Regions from separate parts of the Homo sapiens genome. Here region 2 is linked to region 1. Evidence: fine-mapped expression QTL. Tissue or cell type: whole blood. Region 1 holds a variant in brackets; the other region holds the start of a gene. All regions are shown on one strand. Distances are between the middles of the regions.

Region 1 (8,111 bases):
TATACTCTTAATTGGGGAGAGGAAAGCAAGGGATGTAAGAATAAATGATTTCCAGAGGAAATGCATAATCTAAAGAGCAATGGCCTAGGACAAATTTCCTCTGAGCTCTAGGGGAGGTGGAGGGAAGGTTAGGGCCAGAACTTCACTGTGAACAAAGGTTGTCTTATTATGCAGATGAAGTCACCCAGGGAATCTCTTGGAGCTGCCTTCAAAAGAACAACTGAAAAGTCTGTCTAGGCATATTGACAACTCCAAGTATCTTATCCAGTGGTTATTTGATCCAGTATCTTATCCTGGTCATTTGATGAGATTCCTAGACAAGGAGTCTTTTAAAAATTGCATTTCTTCTGGAAAGAAATTTTCTTAATCAGATAAGGAAATTCCAGAGAGAATTCCCTCTGGTGCTTCAGGAAAGAGGATCAGAGACACAGACAGAAGGGAAAACTTCAGACAGAGAATTTGAGGCTTCCTGTTTAGTCAAAGAGCGATATATTTTCAGTATCATTTTCTGAGCCCCAATAGTATACAGTTGTAGTTAGTTTCATGGTGCCATATTTCTTGCAGTGTGTCACATCTTCTGCTTAATTGTAGAGTTTTAATAGAAAAATCCTTCATACATGTGGGCACAAATTTTATATTAACATAAAAACATTTTCATTCCTATCAAACAGTTCTGCCAATCCCAGGCAGTAACACTCGATCTGTAATTTTGATTGAAGGGCTGGATTCAACTTTGATTACATGCAAATAGGAGAAAAAGTAACTTGCACTGATTTGCAATTTTCATTCTGCCCTAAAGCTTGGGTCACTTGGATCCAAATGCCAACTTTCCTAAATCTCTGCTCAAAAAAGAGAGGTGGAAAACTTTCCAGTATAATTCATGGGGGTGCTTAGGTGTAGCTTTTCTCACTTGAAAACCAGAGAACCAGAGAAGGTACAGAAACCTGGAAAAATGATTATAAGTCTTTTCTAGAACATTAGAAACCAATTAGGTCAGTTGTTAAAAATCAAAACTAGAATTTTATGTGACATATAGAAAGAAAATTTCCTGACTTTAACACAGGAAGTTGTGAAGTTGTAAATACAATTTTCAAGATGATTCGTTTATTGCAGAAATTGATTTGAGTTTGCCTCATTTTTGAACTCTTTATAAATACAACCTTAATATATTTTCTTCTTGTTTATGACTTCTTTTTTTAAGCATTATGTTGATAAAATGTATCCACTTTGTTGCATGTACATGTGGTTCATTGCTTTCAATTTCTCTATATTGTTCCATTATATGAATTTGCTATAATTATTAATCCTTCCTTAATTTATAGGTATTTGAGCTGTTTCTTTTTAGAACAATTACAAATAATACTACCATGGGCATTATTTTACATGTCATTCAATGCACTTCTCTTGGATATATAGCTAGAGTATATGCATTGAATTTGATACTCAGACTCTCTTCACAGACAATGAAAAGGTTAAATAATAATTAAACTAAATTTAATCTTTTCACCTTCACCCCAGTCTATATGTTATTGGCATACATTTTATTCATTACCTCTTTTAACACAAGATATTATTGTTCTATACAGTCAATAGTCCTTTTAGTTACGCACATTTGCCATTGCCTTTATTTTCATTCCTTCTTGCATCTTCAACTTTGTATTTTCAGTAACTTTTTTCTATCTGAAAATGTATCCTTTTGAATTTCTGTTTATGAAATGTCTGCTACTCCTTTGAAACGCACTGAAAATATATTACATTGAATTCTAGCTTCCATGCTTTCTGCTGAAAATCAGTTGTCATTCAAACAGTTGATCCTTTCAACATAATCTATCTTTTTTCTCAGGCTACTTTTCAAATTTTCTATTGGTCTTTGGTTTCCTGTAGCATTTATATGTTAATTTGTTTTCAGTTATCTTGTCTGAGGTTTGTTGGTTTCTCGAATGTATGGATTGATACATTTTATTATTTTTGGAAAGGTCTCAGCAACATTACTTCTTCCCTACATTCTCTCTTCTAATCTTCCAGAACTCCAAAAGTATGTTAAGCCTTTCTGACTGTAGCCTCAATGCTCTTCCCCTTTAGCCTGTATTTTTCCATCTCTTTGTCTAATTATGCTTCACTCTGTGTAGTTATCTTCCAATTCACTAATTCTTTATTCTACCATTTCTAACTGATTGTTAAATCTAATTGATTGTTAAATATTGAATTCTTAATATTAATTTTTTCAGTCATTATTTTGGTGGTAGAAAGAAACTTTCACTCTATTTCTGTAAGTTATTTCTATGGATAAATAAAATACTCATAATACCAAATTCTTAAAGATTTTTTAAAAACTTTTAGTAAACTTGACAAGAAAATACCAATAATTCTCTTCTTTTACCCACACTTTGGTCAAAGAAAACACCAATTTTTTTTTTTTTTTTTTTTAGACGCAGGCTTGCTCTGTCACCCAGGCTGGAGTGCAGTGGCGCGATCTTGGCTCACTGCAAGCTCTGCCTCCTGGGTTCACACCAGTCTCCTGCCTCAGCCTCCCGAGTAGCTGGGTCTATAGGCACCCGCCACCATGCCCGGCTAATTTTTTTGTATTTTTAGTAGAGATGGGGTTTCACCATGTTAGCCAGGATGGTCTCGATCTCCTGACCTCGTGATCTGCCTGCCGCAGCCTCCCAAAGTGCTGGGATTACCCACACTTTGGTCAAGAATAGAATAAAAGTGTGAGTCTAATCATTCTTAACCAAGTTGAAAAGAACTAAAAATAAATTTGATGCAAGTAGCAGCTTCTCTGTTGCTGCATCTTCACCACAGACTCTTATTACATGAAAATTCAAGGAGCAGAACTTGATCTCAAAATGCCATTACCATAAATAAAAGATAATACATCAATCACAGCAACACCATCTTATAACATGGCTTAATATTTAAGTAGTCCTTTTACTCTCCTTACACTGTTAGACATGGGGCTTTGTGCCTTACAAGTCCATCATCAAGAGAGTATGATATTGAAGATGTGAGGGCTTATTTCTGTTTGGTTCATTGACTTTTAAAGCCTCTCTTTTGAAATAAGAGTTTAATTATAAAATGGTTTATTGACTTTATCTCTCTTATTATACAAATGCTATTTACACTAAAAACTAAATATTTCTGGTAGTTAGCCTCTGATGAGTTTAAGATTATTTATAAATCATTTGTTCAAGCAATGCATTTTAAGTAAAAATACACTCAACTTCTAACTCTAAATGTATTAAGTTTCACATAAGCCTTGCTCTTTAATAATGCAACTTACCCACAATAATAATCTTTAGGAAATTACCTAGACATTCTCCAAATCGTGCATGTAAACATTTAAAAAACAAATAGTTAAATGAAATATATGATGATGATAGTGGTGGTGGTGGTGATGATGATATTAATAGCTAAATGAGAGAACCCTACCTGATAAATGTGATAGATGTGACCTCACTCTAATTTCCTGAATGGAAGAGTTCATTTTGTCTGGAGAAAACAACAATTCTTCCCTATGGCCTTATCATTCTTACACCATTCTCTGCATCAGGGCTTAACCTGGAAGAATATTTTCACCTACTACTTCATGAAGACTAATATAAAACCAACATACTTCCCATGATTTACCAGCTATTTTTTCCCTTTATTCCATTTTTAAAATTATGGTAAAAGTTACCTCAAACAACAGTGCTGGGTTTTTTTTCTTTCATATGGACATATCCATTTCCTCTATTAAAATAATACATGATCTTCATTTCATATTTTAGTAACATCATTTGCAAGCAAAATTCTCTTAACTGCTTCATTACATTCCCAGCTACTGTGATTACATCTGGGTTATTTTATTACAGTAGTCAAAGTAGCACTACACATCCACAAACATATCCAAGCATTACACTGATATATATTATGCTTTAACAAACTTACTTAATTATACTTAACATTTTATAATTTTTTCCCTACTGTATTTATAATTTTTTGTTCAAAAAATTACATTACACTTTTTTCTGTGATTTTATATATATTTATTCATATTGCCTTGTATATCATATGTGCATTTATTTATATTCCATTATAAATGTTTATCTTTTTCTCCAAGTCTCACATACTCTATTGTTATTAGCAGGCATTATTATAGTAGAGACATTTCCTTGAATCAGACATTATGTCCGGCAACTTTGAGAAAATATGGTTAGTGAATATTTTAAGGAAAATTTCAGAATTATTTAACAACACTTAAAAGGACTCCAAAAAAGAAATTGTTAAATATAAAATTAACTTATGAGGTCTTCTATTAAGTTATTTCTTTCATAGATGCAGAAAGTTAAATTTTGTCTATGAAGTTAAAGGTTTTGCTTTTTTCAGAGAGAATTTAAGATGCCACAGTAGTCTCAAGGAGCTCTGTCTTAGCTTGTTGTTTCCCAAAATTATAATAAATGAGTGGCCTGAGGGAAAGGCAAGTAAAATCATCATAATAAACGTCATGACCTGATAATTCTCTACCTCAAGGAAGATCCAATCTCCTATTAAAGTGGAAATAAAGTTAATAAAAAAAAGGAGGAGGAAGGCTATCACCATTTTCATGGCCCTTTTATGGGCCTCTGTGCTGGAGTCCCTTGAGCCCAGAGAGTTGAGCTGCAAATTCTTGGTGTGTCTCACTAAGGATATAAATAAAAGGAGCAAAGAGGTCAGAGTCAGAAGAAAGGGAATAACGTATGTCAAGCTGAGAAGCCTAAGGCCTTGAAGA[C/T]AGACTATTTTACTTGTATCTGAGTGCAAAGTCATGTTTTTTTCACAACTCACTAATGGCATTGGACATAAAAAGGTAAACAAACGATAAGAACAAAGACCGCAGGAAAAGCACAAGAACCACTCTGTTCATTCTCCACTTCAGCCAGGCAAAAAATAAGCGGGAGAAATTGGCTATCTTAAGCAAGTAGAAAATGCTTAGGCAGGTGGCAAACTAGATACTTAACTGATTAATTAATGCCCAAAGAATAGTAAACAGTTTTACTAGTTTACGGATGGTATATAGATGAGGGGACAATACCATTATAAATGAATCAAATAGTATTAAATACAGTCGAATGATTCTGACTATAGCCAAGCTGGTGAGGATGAAATCAGCTGATGAGACCTTCCAACTCTTGGCCCACTCAATGCAGTTTACCAGTCCAATGAGCCCGTTTCCCAGCATTCCTAAGACAAGTCCTCTTGTTGCCACCACCAGAAAGAAAATATTAATTCCAACGAACATTTCTATGAAAATATTTCCGATATTCTACTTCACTGACAGCTTTATAGTCAAACAGTTGCAGATGGGCATGCATTTATGATGCTTTCTATCTATGTTTTCATCACAATTTCAGAAGGCATAGCCAAATTCAGATATATGTTCAGAGATCTTCATGAAAAAAATAGTTTGTTCTATTTATATTGTAACTCCGGTACTAAACCAAATTGTTAAGAGATACAAAGCTTCATGAATACCTTTCTTACCACTTTCAGTCAGCTACTATATAATTTCTAGAACAAACACTAATGATGTCTATTTATCTTCAGCATCAGCCACAATTTTCCATTCATGGTAATGACTAAAGAAGCGAAGTCGAGTATGTAAACATGCAAAAATGAGAGATCATTTTTCACTAATTTGCATTTTCATCTCCCCTGAGCCATACCACTTGAATACAAATATCTTAAATTTTGAATAGAAATTGTTAGAAATAACATTTATTTCAGTAATTATTTGTCTCTCATTCAGTAACATCCTTCTACATACCAAGCATTTTTGTTGATGCAATATGATTTATAGAAATAAGTCCCTAAAATTATTCATAATTCAAGAATTTCACCCAAGTCCTAAAACTATTAATATAAATAATTTGTATGCAATGTTACAGGAGCTAAAAAGAATAAACAAAATATACCAGAATTAAAGACGAGGAAGATACAAATGCTTCAGTGAAGAATTGACTATAGTTCTCTGAGGTTAGGGACATTCAGTTTGAACTGGAATTTTTGTTTGTTTGTTTGTTTGTTTGTTTTTTTGAGACAGAGTGAGACTCCATCACACAGGCTGTACTGCAGTGGCACAATCTCAGCTCACTGCAACCTCCGCCTCCCAGGTTCAAGCGATCCTTCTGCCTCAGCCTCCCGAGTAGCTGGGACTATAGGCGAGCACCACCACGCCCAGCTGATTTTTGTATTTTCAGTAGAGACGGGGTTTCACCATATTGGCCAGGCAGGCTGGTCTCAAACTCCTGACCTCGTGATCCTCCTGCCTCAGCCTCCAAAAGTGCTGGGATTACAGGTGTGAGCCACCACGCCTGGCCCTGGAATTCTTTAGAATTTATGAAAAAGAAGAAAAGAACTAATATTCAAGACAGGTTTAAGGGCACTTTCAAACTACAAAAGTGACATAAACAAGCTATACCATGCATCTATAGGCAGGAACTTTTTTGTTTCACATTTGTATGGCTATTTTAAGCAAAATGCACTCTCCAACTTCCATGTCCTAAATTTCATGTTCTACTCTTTTTTCTAAGCATATAGACTATATTTCCAAGCCTCTCTTACAGATGCAATGTGACTAAAAGCTGAACAATGTAATGTGAGTGGAAATTATGTGCACTACTTCCAGGCCCGTCCCATAAAAATTTGCCATGCATCCTCCTCCATGCACCTTTTCTGCTCCTGGCTGCCTGGAATAAGGTGACCCCAAGGCAATCTTGGAAGCTATGTGTTAAAGGTCACCAAGTGATCAGCCTATTTTAGTGAATAACTACATAGGGAAGGTTACTCAGACATATCAGTACCATTAAAAGAACAAAATTAAATCATATTGTTTGAAACGTTTTACATTTTGGAGCTATTTGTGATGCAGTTTGTCTACCCAGTCTAACACAGAAATTGGAACTGAAAGTGGGAGAATTTGTTTAGAGGATTTGGATAGTGAAGGAACAGATCTTGGAGACTGGCAACACGATGGCACATGTGGTGTATAAGCAAACTTTTTAAAAACATTATATGCAATAACTTAGAAGAAGGCCATGTTTAATGAGTCTCTGGCCCTAGGGGAAGTGGTTGATGAAAGTCAAAACGGTGTGCCAGGGTTGTTCTCCAAAATATTTTAGCAAGATATTATGAGAAGATGAGAAAGGAAAAGAATTGACTGGTTTGCAAATAAGAATTAAGAGCAAGAGAGAGTTCAGAAATCTAAGGTTTCAGAGGGGTATAAAATCTCACCGGTTTGGGGTATCAAACAGCAATAAGTGAGACTGAAAAAAAAATTAAGAGGCCCATTAAGACTTTTCAATTAAACATAGAGACCATTGTTTCGAATGCCTTCAAGATAACTGCCACCAAAGTGAAAGAAAGAGGCCTGGGATAAGTAAGGGAAAAATGTTTATCTATTTTCTTATTTATACAGACATGAAACATTTGTGTAAGGACAACCATTTTGGAAATTTTTGTAGGGTAAGATGGAACTGACCAGAAGCAAGTAGATTAAAAACTTTATATGTTGCTGAGGATATTGCATTTGTCAAATAAATTATGAGTGATTTAATTAAATATGTGATATTAAAATGACTCTCTGGCTTCCAAACTTGCATTATTGAAAAGACTTGAAATACGTACCTTCTCCAGGAAGGTACCCTTCTCATCATCCTTTTCAGATGCAGCCAAGGAGGATAATAATGAAGAACATCCAGAGGGTAAAGCCAGGATCCTCAGAAAATGATGGATAAGGGAGTTTCTCCCAGAGTCCAGACACAGGGACTAATCAGGAACTTCCCTGTAAATCCAGGGCAGGCGACTCCACATAGCCTATCAAGGAAGGTTTGTCACTGCTATGGCCAATCTACCATTGTATTCCTCCTGTTTTCTTTCTAAATGGGAGGAGTTTATTGTTGCCAGTCAGCCTGCCCCTAATCATCCACTTTATACTTTGAAGTGAAGATATATATATCTTGTGTTTTTTGTTTTCATTTATTCCCAGACCATGAGGGACTACATTTGGAAGTGGTAAACAGAACTGTCTATCACTCAGAAGCCCTGAACTTTAAGCTGATGTAACATAAGACTTTAATGCATCCCCAGGAAAGGAG
Region 2 (8,111 bases), 160 kb before region 1:
TTAACTGTTACCCATAAGCAGGAAGTGATGAGTTTCTCAAATATAGTAAAATACCATAACATTGAACAGAACTAAATACCAGAAGAAGAAAGATGAACAAGAAGATTCAGTGACCTATAACATAGATGATGATTTTAGGGGTCCAGTGCTCCTAGTCCACATGCTGAAACACCCTTTTAAAGTAAACAGCATGTTGCTCTCTATACATCTATTTCCTGTCACTAAAAATGAGACACAATATTTGTTGGGCCTACTGGGATTTGGGAGCCAACGTATTCCACATTTGAGGATACTGCTCTGATTCACTAATGAAGTTGCCAAAGGCTACTGGTCTCAAGTGGAACTAGAACAAAAAATGCCTCTAGCAAATGTAGGCTCTAGTCCAAGCTGCTGTGCTCATTGTGACAGATAATCCAGCAGAATTCAAACCCGCTAGAGGCATGCATGCATAGTGGGCATTATAAGACTCTGTGCATGCTTCTCACAAGCCCACAGGAGAGGGGAGAGCAAACCCCTAGCCAATTAGTGCAAGACCATTCCCTCTTTAGCAGAGGAGTGCCCTCTGTCTCAAAAACAAAACAGCAGGTGCAGAAAATTAACCCATGTATAAAGCCCTTCTAAGCGTGTGCGTCTCTAAGCACAAGACCCTGTGCAACAGTGGAAATTATATGCTCATAGTCAGCCATGATTGGAGGGCATGAGCACATCTGAATGGCACAAGGAGTGGACTGCATGGGACACAAACATGTGCTTCCTCAGATTTACTTGACTGTCTCCTATTCCCCTGGTCAGCACCTTGCCTGACCCACATCACCCTTCCATTTGGGACTTGAATGGATCACCACATTGTGGGCATGAGGTCTGACTTTCATAACCTCCATCAAGGGATTGGATGATGGAAAGCAGAACAGCAGAGATGGTAGTTCTGCCTCAGGGAAACCCTGGCCAGTGGGAAATAGAAGACAGAAGACAGCTGAGCAGATATATTCTCCGTCCTCTGTTGCTTCCATGGGCTAATGCTGGCTGTGTTGTCCTCTCGCAGCCCTTCTGAAAAAGTCCTGGGAGCCAAGTGCATGCATCTGATAACCACCATGCTGTCTCTCTCACATCATTGTGAAGTGGTCGTCAGCAGAGTCATATCACACATTACAGCACATAGTGTCACATCTTCTCTTGACTCAATTTCCACATGTCCCAGCCATTTCTGCAGTGGACCTCCTTCCAAATAAATGTCATCACTTTAATATCAGACATTTGCTCTACTTCTAGACCCCTGATAAGATATTCATTCAGTGTTATAATTATTATTCATTCATTTTTCCATCAGTTTATAATATGGTGATTAAAGTGGTCATTTAGAAAGGATATTAAAAATACTAAATAAAGATTATATTTTAGTAAGATAGTTGGTAACTAAATTTTTTAAATGAAATGTCATTTTTGTTTATATAATAACCAGCTAGAAATACCACAATATAAATATATCATTCGCAATAGAAAAGATATGTGCACTTATACAAAAATCTTTTATATGCTTAGTAAAAAGTATTGTAATAAATGCCATCTTTTTATTTTCCACTTTGTCTTTGTGTCACACATCTGATATAGCTGCATCACTGCTATATTATAGTGATATTTCCCCTAGAATTGTGGAATAGCCAAACTTTTGCTCTGAGAAATTCTTCTTCTTCTTGGATAATCCTGTAACTTCAATCTGAAACCAGAACAGAAATGTGCACCCAACTGTAGATTTTGTGATGTGTTACATTTTCATTGGTTCACCACCCCAATATAGTTCATATTCATTCATTCACCAATTAACTTGTTCATCAAAGTATCATTTTTCAATACCTATTCTATGTGCTATCTTTATGTCTTGGGAGTCTACAGTAAGCAAGATCTATATGATCTCTACTTTTATGGTATTTACATTGTACCAGGTAAGATATATGATAAACAAACAAATCAGATGTGGAGATGATTTATCTTAAGGTTTAGATAATATTGTTAAAATTGCATAACACCAGAAATTAATACAGTCACACAGAATTTAGCTGTTGAACTAGGTTATACATTTTCTTCTTGTAATAGAACTTGCTATTAGTGAATATGTCAACACACTTTCTCTCATTTCATTATTTACACCAAGATTATAATAAAACATATCTTTAAGACATTTCCTATCATTAATATATAGATTTCATAGATGCCATAGTTTCTATACCCTCTTTAGATTGAGCTTCTTTTTAAAGTAAGGAAAATTTGAGCTTTTTGAGGAATTTTAAGGATGGAAGATAAAGGAGGAAATTGACAATTCAGGAGCTCAGAGGTGGCTTAGACAAAAAACTGAAATATATAACATCAGATCTCAACTTCAAAAAGGTTTTTGTTTAATTCAAAAACTGGAAGAGATGACTTTTCTAATTGCGTATGGAAACTTATAACAGCACTGAAAAGAGCTCATGATCATGTTTCTTCATCCTTTTTATAGAAATGATTTTTTCTAAGCTATTAACATACTATATTAAATATAATATTCCTCAGTATTGCTTTTGATACACATAAAAATGTACACTAGATATATTTTTCACCCTTGAATTTTATTTTGTGCATTGTTATCTAACAATAATTGTATTTGCTTTATATTAAACATAAAATAAGAATTCATCATGAATGTCTATAATCCCAGCACTTTGGGAGGCTGAGGCAGTGGATCACTTGAGGTCAAGAGTTCGAGACCAGCCTGGCCAGCATGGTGAAACCCCATCTCTACTAAAAAAAAAAAGAAAAATACAAAAAATTAGCCACGTGTGGTAGCGCATGCCTGGAGTCCCAGCCACTCAGGAGGCTGACGCATGGAAATCACTTGAACCCCAGAGGTGAACGTTGTGGTGAGCCAAGATTGTGCTACTGCATTCCAGCCTGGACAACAGGGCAAGACTCCATCTCAAAAAAAAGAAAAAAAGAATTCATGATTAAAAAAAAAACAAAAAAACCTACCCCAAAGACACATTCTCATCGATTTAGAATTAAATGTCCTTACCATCCAAAAAATTAGAGGTTCAAACAATGATAGTTAAACAGTTAAACACACTATGGTACATATACGTGATACAAATTACAACGAAAAACAGCAATGATTTTACAACGAAAAACAGCAATGATTTTCTGATATAAGCTGTCAGTTCTTAATTATAAATAGAGATCATAAATTCCTCAAATGAAATATCATATAAAAAAATGTGTGAAATACACATGGGTTCATAATTCTGAGAAATTTCTTATCCTACTTTGGTATAACTGAACAGTTTATATGAAAAGTTGATTAAAGGTATGTTATGGTAAATATTAAATTTTCATATACATTCAGACATACACACACACGCAAATGTATATTATATATATATACTTTTATATAATAAACTTAGGTAAAAGACTTTTCTATGTCAACTTTTGGAAATTACTCAAATACATAGACTACGGAAAAACTTGTGGGAAATATAAAATGTTCCAGACACCATCAATTTGTTTTCTGCTAGAAAACACACAATGCACCTCTTGTGAATCTATGGAGTTGACTGGTTCTGTCCTTTTGCCCAGCAAGTCACCTGCCACAAAACTGAAAGAAAGGTCTGCTTTAGCGTCTTGTTCCCCCAAATCAGAATGAATGAGTGGAATGATGGATATATGATTCCAAAAGCTTGGCAAAGCATTAAGACAATTTCTTTTGGTCGCATCTTAAAATTCCAAAACGATATGATTAGACACAGAAAGTAAATGGCAAGTAATATGAGGAAGGAGGTCACAGTTTGCAGAGCTTTTATGTGGATCTTGGTGCTGGGATCTTGAGATCCTTTGCCATGGAGCTGCATCTTCTTCAGATGTTTACACAGAGAGTAGATTAACAGCAGAAAAGATATCAGGGTCAGAGTGAATGGTATCAAGTTTGCTAGCATGGCTACAGTCAAGTTGGAAAGGTGCATTGCATTCCTCAGTTTGATCTTCCAAGTTACGTTTCCTTCACATTCTTCTGTCCACACATTTATATACGTGTGTTTCATCACAAGGTGACAAACCAAAAAGAACAAAGACCCCAACACTATCACCAGAACTACACTCTTAGCCTTCCTTTTTAAGTGATGAAAAATAAGTCTGGAGAAATTGACGATCTTGAGCAAATAAAATATGCTGAGGCTAGTAGCAAGCCAGATGCTGAAATGATTGGTTACTGCCCAGGCATTAGAAATAAAAATTATTACTTTTAAATTAGATGAAGTTGGATTCAACACAGTTGAATACCAATGTAATAATATTACCCAGAGCAAACCAACTCTGGAGACTGCCAGAGCAGCAATAATTTGATCAGCTGAGGAGATCTTTTGTCTCTTGACCCAGGCAATGAAATTTATCAGTGCTATAAAGCCATTGGCAAAATTTCCAAGAATAAATGCAACCACTACTAGAATGGAAAAAACAATGTGTAGAAAACTCATCATGTCTAAACAAAAAAGCAAGTAAAAAATTCAGGCCTAATGTCACTGATGGTGACTCCTCTGATATTCAAGACTTTAAGTTAAATATGCACTTGATTCCTGAATGTCCAATAACATTCTTTATACTTTTAAATTCTGTGAACAATGTCAACAGAAAAGCACCAGCTTAAACTAATGAATGAGTTCAATGCTGCCTTTATGGGAAATACTGTTAGTCCCAAAACAACTCAAATTAATTCTTATTCATAAAGTCTCTATTCTTGCTATAGGCTGAAATTTTTCATACTGATGTTGAAGGGAAAGCTGAATTCTCATTTGCTAGCATTCAAATAAAGACATATCCTCTTTCATTGCTTTGCAATTTTTTCCTTGTTTCACCTTTCCATAATTTGTGTTCAGCCCTTCAGTTGTTGGGGAAATTTTAATACCCAGTACATAGATGACACAAAAAATATATTGTTAAAAGAGCCTGGTGAAATCTAGGATCAAAATCACTATGGATTTATTTTTAAAGCCAGATTTAAATACACAGAATCTAAACTTTTTATCAAAATCACCTAAGATTTTCTTGGAAACCACAGGAAAGCCAATACTCCTTATAATTTGGTTGCTGTTAACCAATACTTCTATATGGCATCACTATTAACAAGCTCATAAACACACACACAGACACACACACACTTTCACTCTTCAAGGATGGAAGGAATTGCTTTCTTGTAACTTATGACATGGAAAATGAGTTTCCAGGAGCTCGTCCTGGTGGAATTAGTCCTATTTTTCCCATGCCAGATTTTCAGCCAATGAATAATATTCATGAAACATATCTCTCATGCTTAGGCTTTTGGTAATGCTACCTGCAAGCTTGTAAACATTCCTGAGTACCAGACCTTTGTCACATAATTTTGCAGTGTCCTCCCACCACAGGCATAGTGACAACCTTGCACTAGGGCTCTGAGTTCGATCATGTAATTTGCTTTGATGAACAGAAAATTACTACACTTTACATCGAAATTTGAGATGACCTCCACATTAGGCTTTCTTGTTCCTTTCCGGTTTATAATGAGAACATGTCCACACTAACACACTGTTCCCAGAATAAGAATGAGTAACTCATGGAATCATATGGCTCCTGCCTGATCCAGCCTTAAATCGGCCAAACTCTAACTAGATCCAAGAGGCAAAACTTGGACCATCTCAAATCACCAGAGCCATCCACCAAACCCCAGCTTAAGAAAACAGAATCCAAAAACATGTGAGATATAAATATCTAATGTGGTTTTGGAGAAGTTTCTTTTGCAGAAAAAGCTAAGTGATATAGGTACTCTGCTAATCCAAGAGTTTGAGAAATATGTGCGCCCTTGTTGTGTCAGAAATTCAGGAGCCAAAGGAAAAATAGGTTGGAAATATCAAAGTTTTTGTAATATGAGGTGAATATCTAAAACTAGAAGAAAACTTTTGGAAAGATCTGGAGGCTGTAGGTAACAGCATCTCAAATTTCTCCATTTTGCAACTAAAATAAGAATTCACTTTAGCTCTCTTGAGTTGTATAAGAATGTACGTAAATGGTGGATTTTCCCCCTAGGTATATAATGAGCAGAGCAATTAATAATTTTTACGTGACATTTCTCCCAATTTGTAATTTTTTAAATAAAATTATAATGCACACTTAGAAATGGGCCAAAACAAAAATAGGTAAGAGCAATGTATCATAAACACTTATGTAACCATCATGCAGGATAAGACATGGAACACTGCAAACAGACTAGGTCCACTTCCAGGCCACTTTCCAAGCCCCTAAACCTTTATTCACATCTCCTGAGATAAGCAATATTCATAATCTATGATGATCATTTGCTTGAATTTCTTTATACTTTACCAGCTAGGTTCACAACCCTAAACTCCACAGCTTGGTCTGTCCTGCTTTGAACTGTGTATAGGTGCAGTCCTGTGTGTTCTTCTTGTTCATGGCTTCTTGCACTAGATATCATGTTTCTGAAATTTAGTTACATAGTTGCATGTACATGTGATTCATTTCTTTTCACCTCTATATACTGTTCCACTGTATGGATTTACTGTAATCTTTCATATCATTCAATCATCCTTAGTTAATATATATTTGGGCAGTCTATTTTTGAGCTATTATGAATAATACTACTATCAGCATTATTTCACATATCATTTGATGCAATTCCTATTATGGGGTCATTAAATGTGGTGTTCAAATTATCCTCACAGACATAGAAAAGTGCAAAAAATAATTTATCTAAATTTGTTCCTGTCACCTTTACCTCCAGTCTCTTTATCGCTATTTGCATATATCTTATCAATAATATATTTAACTCAGCAAGACGCTATTATTTTATTCAGTCAACATTCATTTAGAATTATGCACATATTTATCATTTCTGTTAATTTTTATTCCTTCTTGCATGCTTAACCTTGTATTTTCAATATTTTTTATCTGAAAAATATCATTTGGATTTCTGTTTATGAAGGTCCTCTATTCTTTTGAAACACACTAAAGACATGATTCCATTGAATTCTACTTTCCATTTTTCTGTTGAAAATCAGGTTGTCATTTAGAAAGTTGTTCCTTTTAAAATAATCTATCTTTTCCTCTGGCTACTTTTCAGATTTTCTACTGGTCTTTGATGTCTTGTGACATTTTATGTTAATTTGTTTTTAGTTATCTTGTCTGACCTTTGATGGTTACTAAAAATATATGGATTAATACATTTTATCACTTTTGGGAAAATCTCCACAACATTGATTCTGCCCTATTTTATCCCTTTTAATCTTCCAGAAATCCAGAAGTATGTTAGATGCTCTGATTGTAGCATCAATGCCTCTTATCCTCTTAGCTTGGCATTCTTTGTCTTGTGGTCTCTTTAGGCTTCTTTCTTTATAGTTGTCTTCCAATTCACTAATTCTCTCTTCTATGTCTAACTGGTTGTTAACTCTGTCTATTGGATTCTCAATATTGATTATTTATTTTTTGCTATTATTGTTTTAGTAGCAGAAATTATATTTTGTTCTCCTTCTATAAATCATTATCTATGGAGAAGCAGAACAAAGCACTCTTACCACCAAGTTTTTTAAAAAAAGTTGGGTTCTTTGTTCAGTTGGTTGGCTTTGTTTTTTTGTTTTTCGTATGCTTGACATGAAAATGCTAACAATTTTCTTCTTTTCCCAAGACTTTGGTCACAAAATAGAATAAAAGCTTGGTCTACACATCCTTCCGCAAGTTGGAAGAACCTGGAAATTGATGTGATGTTAGTAGCTTTTTTTTTTAGGGGGGGATAGCAGCTTGTCTGTTGATGAGTCTTCACCACAAACTCTCCCCACAGGGAAATTCAATGAGCTGTGCTGGATCTCAAGATGCCATTCCAATAAATAAATTATAGCACCTCAACCCTAGCTACACCATTCTATTTTACAAATTAAATTTTACTCTTTTTTTATTAGCAGAAGTGGAGCTCTGTACCTTCAAACTTCTTCACTATCAGGTGAGATATAGAAGATGTGAGGGCTTACTTCTATTTGATTTATTTAGTCCTAAAATTCTCACTTTAGATGTGCCAGCAACCTGTGTGGGCTGATGACTTGGGGCAGGATGGG

What was found. PIP is the estimated chance that this variant, and not a neighbour inherited with it, causes the effect.
Region 2: it holds the start of TAS2R20, and the variant in region 1 is fine-mapped to the expression of TAS2R20 in whole blood (INTERVAL, PIP above 0.99).

The regions. Positions count from the first base shown.
Region 1 is chr12:11,154,438-11,162,548 of GRCh38, forward strand. The region is part of intron 1 of PRH1-TAS2R14 (PRH1-TAS2R14 readthrough); the gene reads right to left. All of the region lies in intron 1 of PRH1-PRR4 (PRH1-PRR4 readthrough), which reads right to left. It also overlaps a transcript of PRH1 not described here and the pseudogene TAS2R18P. Among named protein-coding and RNA genes, the nearest start is that of SMIM10L1, 13 kb to the right of the region's middle. The variant C/T (reference allele first, on the strand shown) is at 4,751.
Region 2 is chr12:10,993,380-11,001,490 of GRCh38, forward strand. It overlaps TAS2R20 (taste 2 receptor member 20), which reads right to left and starts at 4,925. Exons shown (of 1, transcript NM_176889.4): 1 at 2,582-4,925. The coding sequence starts at 4,496. The coding sequence ends at 3,567. All of the region lies in intron 3 of PRH1-TAS2R14 (PRH1-TAS2R14 readthrough), which reads right to left. All of the region lies in intron 3 of PRH1-PRR4 (PRH1-PRR4 readthrough), which reads right to left. It also overlaps a transcript of PRH1 not described here.